Homo sapiens: one gene and its partners. The protein of the gene in region 3 purifies or fractionates together with the protein of the main gene of each other region. This does not show direct contact. Each region holds a gene or a part of one and is shown on either strand. Other genes may lie near its edges.

What was found.
Region 1: the proteins of SERBP1 (region 3) and ECHDC1 purify together in Homo sapiens (affinity purification with mass spectrometry; 2 studies listed by BioGRID and IntAct, with this or other methods). This does not show direct contact.
Region 2: the proteins of SERBP1 (region 3) and NCAPG purify together in Homo sapiens (affinity purification with mass spectrometry; 2 studies listed by BioGRID and IntAct, with this or other methods). This does not show direct contact.
Region 4: the proteins of SERBP1 (region 3) and FAM162A purify together in Homo sapiens (affinity purification with mass spectrometry; 2 studies listed by BioGRID and IntAct, with this or other methods). This does not show direct contact.

What each region holds. Positions count from the first base shown.
Region 1 is NC_000006.12:127,340,810-127,344,996, forward strand, and holds the start of ECHDC1 (ethylmalonyl-CoA decarboxylase), read right to left. Parts: upstream 2,801-4,187; 5' UTR 2,527-2,800; intron 1,599-2,526; exon of another isoform or gene 1,563-1,598; coding exon of another isoform or gene 1,547-1,562; intron 851-1,546; exon of another isoform or gene 678-850; intron 1-677. UniProt on the Homo sapiens protein: Decarboxylates ethylmalonyl-CoA, a potentially toxic metabolite, to form butyryl-CoA, suggesting it might be involved in metabolite proofreading. Acts preferentially on (S)-ethylmalonyl-CoA but also has some activity on the (R)-isomer.
Region 2 is NC_000004.12:17,834,979-17,838,478, reverse strand, and holds part of NCAPG (condensin complex subunit 3), read right to left. Parts: intron 1,321-3,500; coding exon 1,139-1,320; intron 853-1,138; coding exon 678-852; intron 1-677. UniProt on the Homo sapiens protein: Regulatory subunit of the condensin complex, a complex required for conversion of interphase chromatin into mitotic-like condense chromosomes.
Region 3 is NC_000001.11:67,413,403-67,416,902, forward strand, and holds part of SERBP1 (SERPINE1 mRNA-binding protein 1), read right to left. Parts: intron 1,938-3,500; coding exon 1,764-1,937; intron 1-1,763. UniProt on the Homo sapiens protein: Ribosome-binding protein that promotes ribosome hibernation, a process during which ribosomes are stabilized in an inactive state and preserved from proteasomal degradation.
Region 4 is NC_000003.12:122,390,682-122,394,181, reverse strand, and holds part of FAM162A (protein FAM162A), read right to left. Parts: intron 1-3,500. UniProt on the Homo sapiens protein: Proposed to be involved in regulation of apoptosis; the exact mechanism may differ between cell types/tissues.

The DNA of each region.
Region 1 (4,187 bases), on a different chromosome or scaffold from region 3:
AAATAAGGAGGAGGGACTTATAAAAGCATTAGCATTTTGTGGGAAAGTAGAATCAGTAAACAACATATCTTCTGCTCTCATTGTAAAGGGTCTGTCTGCTCTGTCTTGATACATTACCCCTCTCTCCAACATCAACACTACAGCAATTAGTATGAACGCCATCAGATCTATATCCTTTTATCCTCAAATCTTTAAAACATTAAATATTTAAGTAATAGTAGTATTTTGCCTCATTAGACATCTTTGATCCATCACTGAAATGCCAATTTTTCCAAGAAAATCTTGTAATACTTCATGTATCCTTTCTCTATTAATTCCATATTTTCTATCTTCTCTCATTCTATTCCCTCCCACTACTGTCTCTCCTTTTCTCTCCTCCTCTTATATTCCTTGTCTGTGCCAGAAAAACCTGAGAACACTGCTTAAGCCTGCTAGATTCACTGACCCCAAGTTTAGAAATCCAATTCTAAAAATTTTATAATAGCCTATTATGTACACTTTCGTCCCAGTTCTAAATTCAGAGACTATCTTAGACAAAAGCTCAGTGATGAGATGACAAGGTGTTAGTCATTATTAACCTACTATAGTATCTAATAGTATAAAGTGAACAAAGCTTAAGATTCAGGTTCTGTAGAAGTATGTAGTTAAACGATTGGTTTTTTTTGGATTTCTTCCAGAATCACAGGAAGATGAAAAGGTTCTGAAGCATTTACAATTTTATAAGCTTTCTTCGGGGTAAAACTTATGTTTAAAACTTGCCATGCAGGATGTCTTGCAGCCCCACCACAAAGAAGATTCAGTGGAGCTGAACAAGCTCACTACCAAGCCACTGAAAAGAGGAAAGAAAGTCCATCTGAGATCAAAGGTCGCACTTCCCATTTTTTTCAAGTTCTGCAAAGGTGATCTGTTTCCCTTTAGTGCACAGGAAATAAGTGAGATGTTCTCTAAAAGCCTTTACCTGTTTCACCTTATACTGTAATCACTAAATCCAGAAGACTAACGCAAACTCATACTTAAAAAGAAAACAATTAGCCTAGAGCACGTAATAGAAATCAGAAGCATTTGATTTCAGACTGTCTGTATATCGCCTGTTTGTAAAAGTTCTGATTCGGTTGTAGGCTGTCATAACATAAACTACCTTTCAAGGTTCATTACATGCCACCCACAACTCTCTCCCTCACACAGCCAAAATGCACAACTTTCAGTTCCTGAAATCCTTTTGATTTTTTCGCCATCTCAAGCTTTCGCATATGCGATCTACCTGTTACATTTTTGTCTTCCTCAGAGTAACTTCAAATCATCTCCTCTAACATAGGACTACATAAAGTCCCCTTATTGTCTGCTCTCAGAACATCTGTATCTCTCATCACCACTCTCACTCACTCTTTGCTGTAATTAGTTTTTTAACCAGTTCTTCCCATTAGTCTTAGCTGCAAGAGGGCATTTGCAGTGCCTAAAGATAATATTCTTAAGACTAAACAGGGGCTTAAGAATCTGGCCACAAATCAACTCTCCAACTACCCTGTTTATAATCCTCACAACTCACCCTGTTTCAATGCCATGCTTCTTCACAGGCTGGCTTCCCTTCCTGGAATGTTAATCATTGCAGGAATCCCAGCTGATTATACAGTCGCCTTTCAGGCCAGAACCCAATAAAAAATCAAGAAAGGATCGCCCGTTCTATTACTGCGCTGCTCCCTCCCCTCGTAGATTTCACAAATATACTTCTCACCACAAGCTTGTCTGTTCCAAGAGAATGCTAGCTCTTCTAAAGAAGGAGCCCTTTGTTTTCCTTGCCCTTGTCCAGTTCCTCTGCATACCTCTAGCACCTAGAGCAACAACTGCTATACAGGAGCCCAGATGTGGAACAGAGCAAAGAACTGAGTGTTGATTTAATGTTGCCTGAAGTCCTTAACAGCACCTTCAACCTAAACTTAACTGTGTTTTTAATCCCCTACACGTGTAATCCCTGTATGTGTGCGCAGCGTTAAAAGGATTATTGTAGCTCAAAAATTCTCCAATGAAAGAACCTCTACCAGAAAGGAGTTGCTCATCTTTCGTTCTTGAAAAGTTGGCTGCACGATACAAGTAAGAAAAGTTTTAGTTAGGCAAGACAACTTATACATAAAAGACAATTATAGGGAACATTACCTAACTTAGCACAGGGCCTCGAATGTATTCCGAAATTAAATCAGCATGTAGAAAGCAAGCCTCCTCATGCTTTTTAAAGTGTAATCTCGCGACCTCGCGGCGCGCTCTGGGAAGACCGATTCATCTCTTCCCCTCGCCCTCTTTCCCCGGCCGGCGCACAGCCGGCCCGTGGCGCTCGGCACCGCGTCTCCACGTCCAGCGCGGGGCAGGCCTGCGCGGCGCTTGCAAGGGACAAGCCGCGGAGCCGGGGAGGCTCGCCGTCTGGGACACGTTTGGAGAAGCGAGCGGTACAGTCCATTCCACGGCGACATTTTAGGATTCTCCCACTGACAACACTAAACTGAAGCGCTAAGACCAACCCTTACGACCACTTACCGTCGCAGGCCACGGTGGTGACTTCCTTTTCCGCTCCCCTACACACGCTTTTCCGTTTTGCGTGCCTTTGTTTCCGCTCCCCCCGGGACCATCGTGCGCCCCTGTCCTCCGTTCTTGTAGGTCCTCTCCTCTTCTCCGCGTCTTCTCTTTTACTATCCCACGCTCTCCTTTCCTTTCTCCGGGAACTTTATCCCGTTCCCCTGCCGGTTCCCGTGACCCCGGAAATCCCGCTCCTGCCGCGAGGCGCCCTCCGCTTCGCGCTCCCTCGTGTCACGAGGGAGCCAGGGTGGGCGGTCTCCTATTGTACTTGGCTTTTGAATTTTCGCTTTTGCAGCACAAAGGTAGGGCTGGGAAAGGAGGCTGCCGAACCGTGCTTGTTTTCGCTCAGATAAACGTGAGAAAAAGTGGAGGTGAGGAAGCCAGTGTAGGCAAATAGCGAGAGGGGAGAAGACAGAAAGGTACCGAAGGTCGACCTTTTTTAGGTATCTTATCCAAGTTATTGAGGGGAATGGGTATTTAGCCAGTTTTTTGTTTGTTTGTTTTTATCCGAATATCCAGTGTGTGTCTTGAATGTGTGAATGTGACGTGTTTATAAAGCTCAGTAAGCTTAAAATTCCGTGCCAATACATTTTGTATGCCGCAGACAGGAAGTGCTTTGGAAGACCCTTGAAAGGGGAGGTGATTTTACACCAATATTGAGATCATTTTGTCAGAGTCGTGGGACTAAAGGTAGACCTTAGGTAGTCGATGTCAAAGATAAGCGCAGCTGGACGTTAAAGCGGTGAAAACATTCAGTTAACTACTGACAGGAAAGAGCTGAGCTCTATTTCGATTCGTGCAGAGATCATCTGGGCATTTTTAAAGGGACGTTTTAAAAGGAGAAAGGGGATATGCGGGCGCTCAGTAGAGAAAGTGAACCTACAGAGTTGTTAGTGTAAATGTGATTAGGCCAGCTGTGTGTTTGTGTGTGCGCGCGTTTTAACAGTTACCGCAGGATTCTATCCTCCTACGGAGGATTTTATCCTTCTCGATTACATTTCAAAGGAATGACTCTCTGGTCCTTGAGAGAGAACTTCTGAGTGGCAAGAAATAAGTCTTTACAATTGCAAGCCCTTTAGTAAACGTTCTAAGAAAGGGATGTCAGAGACCTATCATCAGTTGTGTGCTGGTTACATCACGTAGTTAAGCTTTCTGAGGCAGTCGCCCTGGGCACAGGGCCTTATGCTGCTAAAGCTTGCTAGAGTTTGGTCAAGTCTCTGAACGCAGGGGTTTAGATGGGATGGTCATGTTCCTGGAGTTCTGCAGTGGTCATAGGTATGATTTGAATAAGTACAGGGAATATTCTAGTCGGAGGAACAGAATGTGCCAACGCGCCGAACAGGGAGGATAGTTTTACGATACGGAGATGTGTATGATAGGGAATAAGTGGGAGCCCAGTTTGGACTAATTGGAAGAAGTCATTATTAGAAGTACTGTATTTAATTCTAGTTTGTTATAAAATGAGACTCCAAGATCACTGAGCCATTTCACTGAGACTCCAAGATCACCCCAATGCTAGGCTAATCTCCATGGCGCCTAGATCTATGCCCACTCCATTCCCCATGTTGGTCCCCATAGTTTCAGGCACCAGGCTCCAACACCAGGTTGGGCCCTACAGCCCC
Region 2 (3,500 bases), on a different chromosome or scaffold from region 3:
TGCTTAATAGCTCTATTACTGACCCTTACCTAATTTTGCCTAATATCCTTTGTAATCTTATCTTTCCAATAATATACAACATATGAATTGAACAGAGTAGCTTATCACTAAATATCAAATAAAATAGAGTAATACTTTCAACTTAATCTGTTAGCATCTGAAATCACTAATACATTAAATTTCAAAAATGGTAACAAGTTTGACCAAATGCCATTAAAGGATTAAAACAACCCAGCTTAAGTTCAGTCTGTGAGTCAGTGTGCAATTGATTTATCTTCTTTGAATTAAAAGCCAAAAAAGCTTGAGGTGAGTTCTAGTCTTTGAATTCTCCTTTCTTGTGCCAGAAGCATAGCAGGTAAGCCAACATTTGAAGACTCTGTGAGTCCTAGATAACATAGGTTATTACTTCAGATTAACAGTCAGTACTAGGTGGGCATGGTGTGGGTGGTGGATTTTTAGTAATTTCTTTTCAGTAGCAAAAATGTTAGCATTGATTACTTCTGTTTTCATATGATTTCTCCACATTTCCCAAGGTCATGTTTCTTTCGTGCTTTGTGGTATATGCTTGAGACAGAAGTCTAAAGACCAAAATGCAGTTCCTCAGTATTTCAAGGGATCTTTGAGAGAGATTATTTTACCAAAACAGTGATCTGCATGCAGTTACCACAGTCACTCACCTGATAATCTTGGGAAGTCTTGGCCTGAGGATTTAATCCACTTGGTCTTGTCAAATCTACAAGTAACTCAGCAACATTTGTGATATCAATTTCAGCTAAAGGAGAAGATGCAGGGGCATTGGCCAGTGTTTGCAGGGTTGGAAGAAAAGCTTCTTCAAAGCATTCCTGATTAGTCCTATTGAGAAACAAATTCAAAGTATGTTGGCAGAACATTATTTGATGAGAGAAAAAGTATGAAATTCAAAACTACTATGTAGGAAATTCACTCATTAAGTGCATTTTCATCTAGGAAAGAGCCAAAAATTCAGATAGATAAAATCTGTATCGTTCTTGTCATTTCATCATTTATCTACTAAAGACAGAAAAAGTATCAACAACAAAATATCATTATAGATATAATTCATGGGGGACTTGAATTTGATGTCAAGTCAGATTTTTGATTTATCAGTATGACTCAATACCTGCTTGCATAAGCAAACACGGGGAAGAACACGCCTAGGCAATGTCGAAGTTGAACATCCTCTTCAGTCACAGGATTGTACCATAACAAAATAAGACGAGAAAGAATCCTGCTGCTGACCAAAAGCCCAGAGAACATCAGCTTGGCTAGTCCTTCTGCAGCTCCAGTCCTAAGTTCAGATACCTAACAAAGATGACATTCATTAGAAGAAATTTATTTGTATCTCCTTTTTAAGCCTCTCAATGTAGCCTGTCCTACAGTATTTTTACACGAACCATCCAAAAACCATTCGAGTTATTACAAATTCTTTAAAGGCAAATAAAAAGACTGTTTCTTCAAAGCTAGAATAACAATTTTAGACAAATCTAAAAGACTAGGAGACTAGACAAATGCTTAGTCTAGCCATGAAAAATTCAATTATCTTAAAACTTTTTAGAAGAACCAAAAGGCCTTTTATAACTGTTGGAAAAAAAGAGCAAAACATATATTTAAATGCTTAGGGTTTCTAAGACATAGAAAACCCTGGCCCCTGGTATTAGAGGAAGGTGCCTATCTATAAGCAAAAGCTCCATATGTAGGAGTGCAATTTGTCTGAATAATGGATAGAATGTGAACAGAAGGTGTTGAAGCAGAAGGCATTCCTAGAAAAAGTAAACAAAAGTCTAGAGAAGACAAAGGAAAAGACAACTGGATGTACACAGGCAAAACAATGAAGCTGGACCTTAGACCATATACAAATATTAACTGAAAATGCATCAACAGCCTAAATATAAAAGCTAAAGCCAGAAAACTCTCAGAAGAAAACAGGGATAAATCTTCATGACTTAGACTTAGCACTGGATTCTTAGATAGGACACCAAAAGCAGAAGCAACAAAAGAAAAAAATGAGTGTATCTCCAAAATTAAAAATGTTTAATACATCTAAGTATATTAACAAGAAAGTAAAAAGACAACCTGTAAAATAAAAGTTACAAATTATACCTGATAAGGATCTACTACCCAAACTATATAAAGAACTCTATAAAGACAACCAACCCAACTTAAAAATGGGCAAAGGACTTGAACAGACATTTATCCAAACAAAATATACAAATGGCCAAGAAGCAGATGAAAAGATACTCAACATCACTAGTCATTAAGGAAATGCAAATCAAAACCACAATGAAGTAGCACTTCATATATACTAGGATAGCTATAATGTTTTAAAAAATGGAACCTAAGTGTCAATAAGGATGTGGAGAAATGGAAAACCTTCTACACTGAAGATGGAAATTTAAAATGGTTCAATCACTGTGGAAAACAGTTTGTCAAGTTCCCAAAAAGTTAAATGACTGAGCAACACAATTCCTAGGTATACAGATACCCAAAAGAATTGAAACAGCTACTCAAACAAATACATATACATGCCATGTTCATAGTAAGCAGCACTATTCACAATAGCCAAAAGGTAGAAACAGCCCAACTGTCCTTCAATGGATGAATGCATAAACAAATCACCATATATACATAAAATGGAGTATTCGGCTACAAAAAGGAACGGAGTACTGATACAAGATACCATGTGGATGAATCTCGAAAATGTTATGCTAAATTTAAAAAGCTAAACAGAGGTCACATACTGTATGATTCCACTTACACAAAATATCCAGAACAGTTAAATCCATAGAAACAGACTGCGGATTGGTTGCTGTCAGGGCTGGCAGAAGGGGGAATGAGGAGCAACTGCTTAATGAGTAGTTTCCTTTTGGGATGATGACAATGTTTTAAATTAGATGATAAAGGTGGTAGTTGCCTTTCATTTTGAATGTACTAAATGCCAATGAATTGTTCACATTAACAGTATTAGTTTGGGCCAGGCACGAGGGCTCACACTTGTAATCCCAGCACTCTGGGAGGCTGAGGCAGGAGGATCACTTGAGGCCAGGAGTTCAAGACCAGCCTGGGCAACAGAGCGAGACCCTGTCTCTACAAAAAATTTAAAAATCAGCGGGCATGGTGGCACATGCCTGTCATTCCAGCTATTCAGGAGGATTGCTTGAACCCAGCAGGTGAGGGGTCAGTGGACTATGATCACGCCACTGCACTCCAGCCTGATGACAGAGCAAGACCCTATCTCAAAAAAATAAAATTAAGTTTTGTTATATCACTTCTAACTCAATGAAAAACTACAATCAGTATAAAAAATTTTTAATCAGTTGGTTTACATGTGTGCTACAAAAATAGTAGTTCAAGAGTACTTAAAAGAGATCCAATCCCATACCCTATCTTACATCTTCTACCCACCCAATATAAAATTATTCTAAACTATTTCTTAAAAGTCTTGGGGATAAATCTTAGAGTCTCTATATCACAAATACAACATA
Region 3 (3,500 bases):
CTTTGGGAGGCCAAGGTGGGTGGATCACCTGAGGTCAGGAGTTTGAGACCAGCCTGGCCAACATGGTGAAATCCTGTCTGTACTAAAAATATAAACAATTAGCTGGGTGTGGTGGCAGGCACCTGTGATCCCACTACTCAAGAGGCTGAGGCAGGAGAATCGCTTGAACCTGGGAGGCAAGGGTTGCAGTGAGCCGAGACTGTGCCACTGCACTCCAGCCTGGGAAACAGAGTGAGACTCCATCTCAAAAAAAAAAAAAAAAAAATCCTACTGTTAAAATTCTAGGTAAAATGTATCAAGACAAAATTATGGATCACAAAAAAACTACAAGTATTTGCAATGAGCCCTGTCCTAAATTTCTACCAAGGCCTATTTTCATTCCAGAGTAATAATATGGGTTGTTTTCTTTTTCTCTTTTTTTTTGGAGACAGTCTTACTCTGTTGCTCAGGATGGAGTGCAGTAACATAATCTCAGTTCACTGCAACCTCCACCTCCTGGGTTCAGGTGATTCTTGTGCCTCAGCCTCCCAAGTAGCTAGGTTACAGGGATGTGCCACCACACCTGGCTAATGAGACAGGGTTTCACAACGTTGGCCAGGCTGGTCTCAAATTCCCAACCTCAGGTGATCTGTTCACCCAGACCTCCCAAAGTACTGGGATTACAGGCGTGAGGCAGTGCGCCCAGCCCAGTTGTTTTACTTTTTCCAATAAACCATACAAGTAGATTCATAAGCAATTATGTATGTGAATTCGCATTGTTCAGTATTCTTATACTTTTTCCACTTGCTAAATAAGAATGGCACCAATGTGAAAGCATGCTAAGGAACTAATATCTAAGTAGCAATAATCATCAAGGTTGAAAGTCTGAAAAAAGGAATCCAAACTGCTCTTTATAGCCTAAAGTATAAATAACAGAACTAAAAAAGAAAGTATGGGAAAAGCCCATCAACACAACCACCACCTTAAAAAAAAAAGGTTGGTCTTAGAGGGAGGAACAAAGTATCATTACACTGGCAATGGTAAGTTACCCCTGTAATCATCAAAAACAGACTCAATCAAGTAGGTGGGTCCCCAAATTTGTGTGTAAGGTGTTGAGAATTTAGGAGGACATTATGGTTGTTTCCAAGCATCAGATCTGAGTTCAAATCTATCAATTACTTGGGAATTCACCAAAATATTTCTCTAAGAACTTGTTTTGTGCCACATACTGTTCAAGGCATTGGAGAGATTATAGAAAGTAAGCCAAAAATGAATCCCAGCTCTCACAGAAGAGTCTAGTAAAAGAAAAAAGTGTCAACAATCCTAAGTGTCGTAAGAGGAATTATACAAGGAACACAATGGTTATTAAGTGGAGACCTAAAAAGCAGTTAGGAATTATCAAAGTGAACAGACTGGTTTTCAGGTAAGCCTTAGCAAAGGCCAAGAGTTAACCTGATTCACTATACCAGAATTTTCTCATCTGGAAAATGAGAATGTCATCACAGTAACAAGAATTAAATGACATTAAGTACATAAAATGCCTAGCCCAGCACCATGACCGGCACCTAGAAAGAACTCAAAAGGGTGGTAACTTAACACTACTAACAGCACTACACAAAAAGGCATTTAAGTGCTTTAAACATAAATATAACCTAACATGCGGTTTCTTAAAGACACTGCTACTACTTCTACTTATGTTCCCAAAAGTGACATAAGTCTGACCCAGCCAGTGACTTATAAGAGGTCCTTAAATTATGTAAAAGGAAAAGAAAGTCTTAAATTACCTTGTCGGTCCTGCTGCCACGGTTTGGGCGCCCACCACGCCCACGTCCACCTCGTCCTCCCCTGCCGCCACGTCCTGGGCGGCCAAGGTCTCCAAAATTGATCTCCAGCTGAGACGTTATATCATTTGCTGGCTTCCGGAAATGATGGTCCATAACCGAATCTTCAGCATGAGCCTAAAAATATAAGTGAAGATGATTGTGTTATTAGTAGAAAAGTAACATTGCAAAATTTCTAAATAATGAGCTTTCTTCTAAAAAAAACCAAAAATCCAAACTGTACTTTCTGTGAACAAATGTCTCAATGCCTCCACAGGTAACAAGCTAGGGCTCAGCTTTAGTGATCCTGGAGGAAGATTTTCCTGCACTTTTCTCTATCTCAAAATTGCAGGTAATACCAGCAGTCCTCAACTAAAGACATGTATGCTATCACAATCAACCCAAACGGCTGAAGCCCATCCTAGACCTACTGAATCATAATCTTTAGCAGTGAAATCTGGACAAGTACATTTTAAATATGCCCTTCAGATCAGGACTGCCATGTGAATCCTTGATGAAGACCTCTGGAGAGATGACATATAAGGTTACTACTAGCACTAACACTGAAGTTAAAAAGAACACTCAGAAAGAAAAACTCTGTTCTACACTCTTCCAACTACAACTAGGGTAAAGACCTTACTAGATATAAACTTCTCAGAAGCATTTTCTGTTAATACACAACCACTACGTTTTTCTACACAAATTGGAGAGCTACAAATTCAAGTGAAACACTACACACTTTACATAAAGAGGGGAATCTTGTAAAGCTATGCACAAATAAAACCACACCTTAAATGTGTCACAGGAACCTTTTTTTTTTTTTTTTTTTGAGACAGGGTCTCACTCTGTCACCCAGGCTGGAGTGCAGTGGCACGATCTGGGTTCATTGCAACCTCCACCTCCCAGGCTCAAGCGATCCTCCCACCTCAGCCTCCCAAGTAGCTGGGTCTATAGGCACATGCCATGACACCTGGCTAATTTTTTTGTATTTTTTATAGACAGGTTTTCACAGTGTTGCTCAGGCTGGTCTCAAACTCCTAGGCTCAAGCGATCCGCTGGCCTTGGCCTTCCAAAGTGCTGGGACTACAGGCATGAGCCACCATGCCCAGCTAGAAACTTCTTAAAAATGAAGTCATGTTTGTGAAATCCAGATCCTCTTTTCTATTTGCGTTTAAGATACATGACCCAGTCTGGGGGAAAAAAGCAAAAAGCCAGACAATTCTATACTGCTTCATGCCTGATGTCTTCTTGTACGCTTGGGATGGGTTTTAATCTTCTAGTTGAAAACTGTACTTATAGGACTTGAAAGTACAGCTTTCTTTTCCTCTTTTCCTAAATACATCTAAGGAATCTTCTTTTCTAAAGGGATAAAGAACATTTTGTTCTTTCATTAGAACTTGTACTATTACAATTCCATTAGACTCAACTTAAAATATTACAGCTGTTAATAACTAGCCTTTAAAGTACAAATAAATTTTTGTGTTTTTATCCATGTTTTCACCCCTTACATCAACTCATACTAGTATTAAATGTCACTCCTTTGTACCAAACCAACACACTGTAAGGCAATAGAATGTTCTAATACAAATTTTAAAGGAGGCTAGAAACATAAAAACAAATTCACAAAACACCAGCAAATTAGAATCAATTATATATACTAATTGTGTGATTTTTAAATGTTTGCTATTTCAAACCAATGCT
Region 4 (3,500 bases), on a different chromosome or scaffold from region 3:
TTGGTGCTGTCCTCGTGATAGTGAGTTCTTATGAGATCTGGTCGTTTAAAAGTGTGTGGCACCTCCCTGATCTCTCTTGCTCTTGCTCTGGACATGTGACATGCCAGCTCCCCCTTCGCCTTCCACCATGATTGTAAGTTTCCTAAGGCCTCCCTAGAAACTTGACAAATGCCAGTATCATGTTTCCTGTACAGCCTGAAGAACGATGAACCAATTAAACTGCTTTTCTTTATAAATTACCTAGTCGTAGGTATTTCTTTTTAGCAATGCGAGACTGGCCTAACACACCTTCCATTCGTGCTCGGACAGAGACTAAATGTGAGGTGAGAGCTTAGAGACCTCTCAGGTTTTTCCTGGAAAATGTGTCCAACCTTACACATATTACATTCTAGAAATATGTCAGAGCTTTCCAGATGTCAGGATGGACATCTCATTCCCCAGCTTCTTGTTTGACCCAGCTGTTACCCACTCCATGTTATGTCAAACAAGTGCTGCTGATTATTTTCAACAAATGCACCAGGGAAAACACTGTTTGCAGTGAATAAACTCCAAGTCAGGTGAAAAAAGATAAGCCCTGTGAGTGGGGTTTCCAGCGAACTGTCAGACAAGTCAAATAGTAACAATTCTCTGCAGCTGGAAGTTTTGGAAAACTCTTAAACCCATTCTGCCTTCTTCAGTGCCTGCAAGGCTGCTGGTTTTCAAAGTAACTGTGATTTGTGAGGCTGTTGGTTTTCAAGACTATTGTGAAGCTGAAAGAAGACAGGAATAAAGCAAGTTAAAACTCCACAAAACTTGCTGTCCTACCACGATTTCAGGCTTTTTTTTTTGGATAAATGCTCCTCAGATTGTCACAAATGCCTGGTAATTTTCCAGAGTTCTGGAAAAGTTGCTTCTGCCAACTTCTGGCAGTGTTATCATTGCTTTTGGGTAAAAATGGATTTTCAGAGGTCCTTACTCTTGACACACCAGAAGTTGGAATCTCTATTTGTGGTTACCTGGCACACAGTCTTTTTCATAAAAGGCCTCATTTATTTTGTTTTCTAGGGCTATAAATGCCAGAAAGCTTTGCCTGGATCTGGCAAACACAACATCAGTGCCACCTAGTGGAAAGGAGATAAATTAACTGCTTTTAGCTTGTTTCCTCATTTAAAATGTGGATAATGCAGTGTTTCTTGTACCAAAGTTGATTTGAGGGTTAAATGGAAAAGCAAATATGGGAGCATCTGGTAAGATGCTTGAAACACAGCAGGCTCTCTAACTGTTAAGTTTATTTTTTTTTTGAAATATTATGTAAAACATTAACTTTGATAAAACTTCTAGAACACTTTTCAATTTTACCCCTAATGTGGTCAGGATTTCTGACAAAGTTAATTATGCAGTTATGAGGCCATGGGAAAAGTCTATGAAACTCTTCAATAGATTTTCATAGCACTCAGGATTAAGACACAATTATTAAATCCTGTGATCTTCAAATTTTAGTGTTTTAGTGTTTGGTGTGAATCAGAGGAATGCCTTGTTAAAACACAAATCATGAGGCTGTCTACCTCCAGTTTCTGCATCCACAGTTCTGGAATGGAGGCTGGGAATTCGCATTTCTAACAAGTTCCTAGGTGATGCTGCTATGCTGGTTCTGGACTATACTTTGAGAACCTAGGCTTTTCTCTCCCCTAAGATGTGGTTAAATATACATAACATAAAATTTACCATTTTAATTATTTTAAGTGTACAATTCAGTGGCATTAAGTACATTTACACTGCTGTGCAACTATTACTACTATCCATCTCCAGGACTTTTTCATCTCCCCAGAGAACCACTGGTTTAATGTGACCTACAAGGCCCCATCTCACACAATGCTATCCCATTCCTCCTTTGGCAGGCACTTACAAAAGGAACAAGGTTAACCGGCAGCAAGCTAGAAGGACTCTGCTCTTTAAACAGAAAAAGAATCAATAATTATTTCCTAAGACAGCTGTCCTTTCCCATTCCTCCTAATTATAGAACAAAGGCAGTTTAGGAGAACAGAAGACAAACTGCCTCTCAGCTAGCTCAGTTTGAGAAATAATAAAGCAAAAAATGCTAACATGTATACCTACTATCAGTGACATCGATGTATGTTGGAGTAATTCATTCAACAAAGTACTTCCTATGTGCCAGGCATTGTTTTAGGCAATATATAAAAAAGATAAAAATCTGTGCCAATAGAACTTGCATTCTACTGGGGAGAAAGTTATACATATGTTAGATACTAAGTGCCAGAGAGAAAAAAATAAACAATGGGGACATGAAGTATGTGTTTGGAATGGGCTGTGTATGAAATTTTACATAGAGTAGTTAGGAAGTCCTCTGTGAGAATGTCACTCTTGAAGGGAAGCAAGGGCTAGCTATGCAGCTATCTGGTGGAAGAATATTCCAAACAGAAAGAATTATAAATGCAAAGACCCTAAAAGATTCTAGAGCCCATAAAGAGAAGGCCAGTATGGCCAGAACAGAATGAATAATGGGAAGACAAGTAGAATTTGATGTGAGAGAGGTACTGAGGTAGTTATGGAGGGTAAGGACTTGGAGACATGAGAGGTTCACCTAGATCAGACTGTATCTCCCAACTTTTTCTTACTACAACTTCATATTGTATGCTAATAACTTTTACCTCCCTACAGTATAAATGCTGATTAAAACATACACACATATTATCTTATTATAGATATTAGAATAATAGACTAATGTAAATATATTTTTTTAAAGATGAGGTCTTGCTTTAAAAATATTTTTAAAAATGTTATCACTACATAGTGAAACCCCACCTCTACAAAAAATACAAAAACTAGCTGGGCGCAGTGGCATGTGCCTGTGGTCCCAGCTACTCAGGAGGCTGAGGCAGAAGGGTGGCTTGAGCCCTGGAGGCAGAGGTTGCAGAGAGCTGAGATCATGCCACTGCACTTCAGCCTGGGCGATAATGCCAGACCTTCTCTCAAAAATAAAATAAAATAAAATTTTAAATTTTAAAAAGTTATCGCTAAAAAATGTCTGAAGTATTTGATGTGGTCTTGGTTTTTATTTTGCAATTATAACAACATGAAAGCATAAACAAACTTTAATATCATTACTAAGACCTTCGTTTTCTCTCAAAGAGACAGAATATATTGACCAGACGTCCAAGCCAGAAATTTTCCATCCTCTGGTGGATCACGATTAAAAACATACAAACCAAAAGAAAAACAGCCCTTTAACCCTCTAGCTGGACTTAACAGCTTGTCCCTGGCTGACCAATTCTGTGTCTCCAGGGCCCTAGCAGGAAGTTAAGATGAAGCCTCACAGCTGTCTCTAAGGCTCTGGGTGGCAAACGGCTAATCTTAAGAGTAAAGGTTCTTAACTTTTTTATCTATCGAAATCACCTGGGGGACCCTGTGAAACAGATTACTGGACCCAACTGATACAGTCAGTATGGACAGAACCTGAGAATGTGCACTTCTAACAATTGCCCAGGTAATGGTGAAACTTC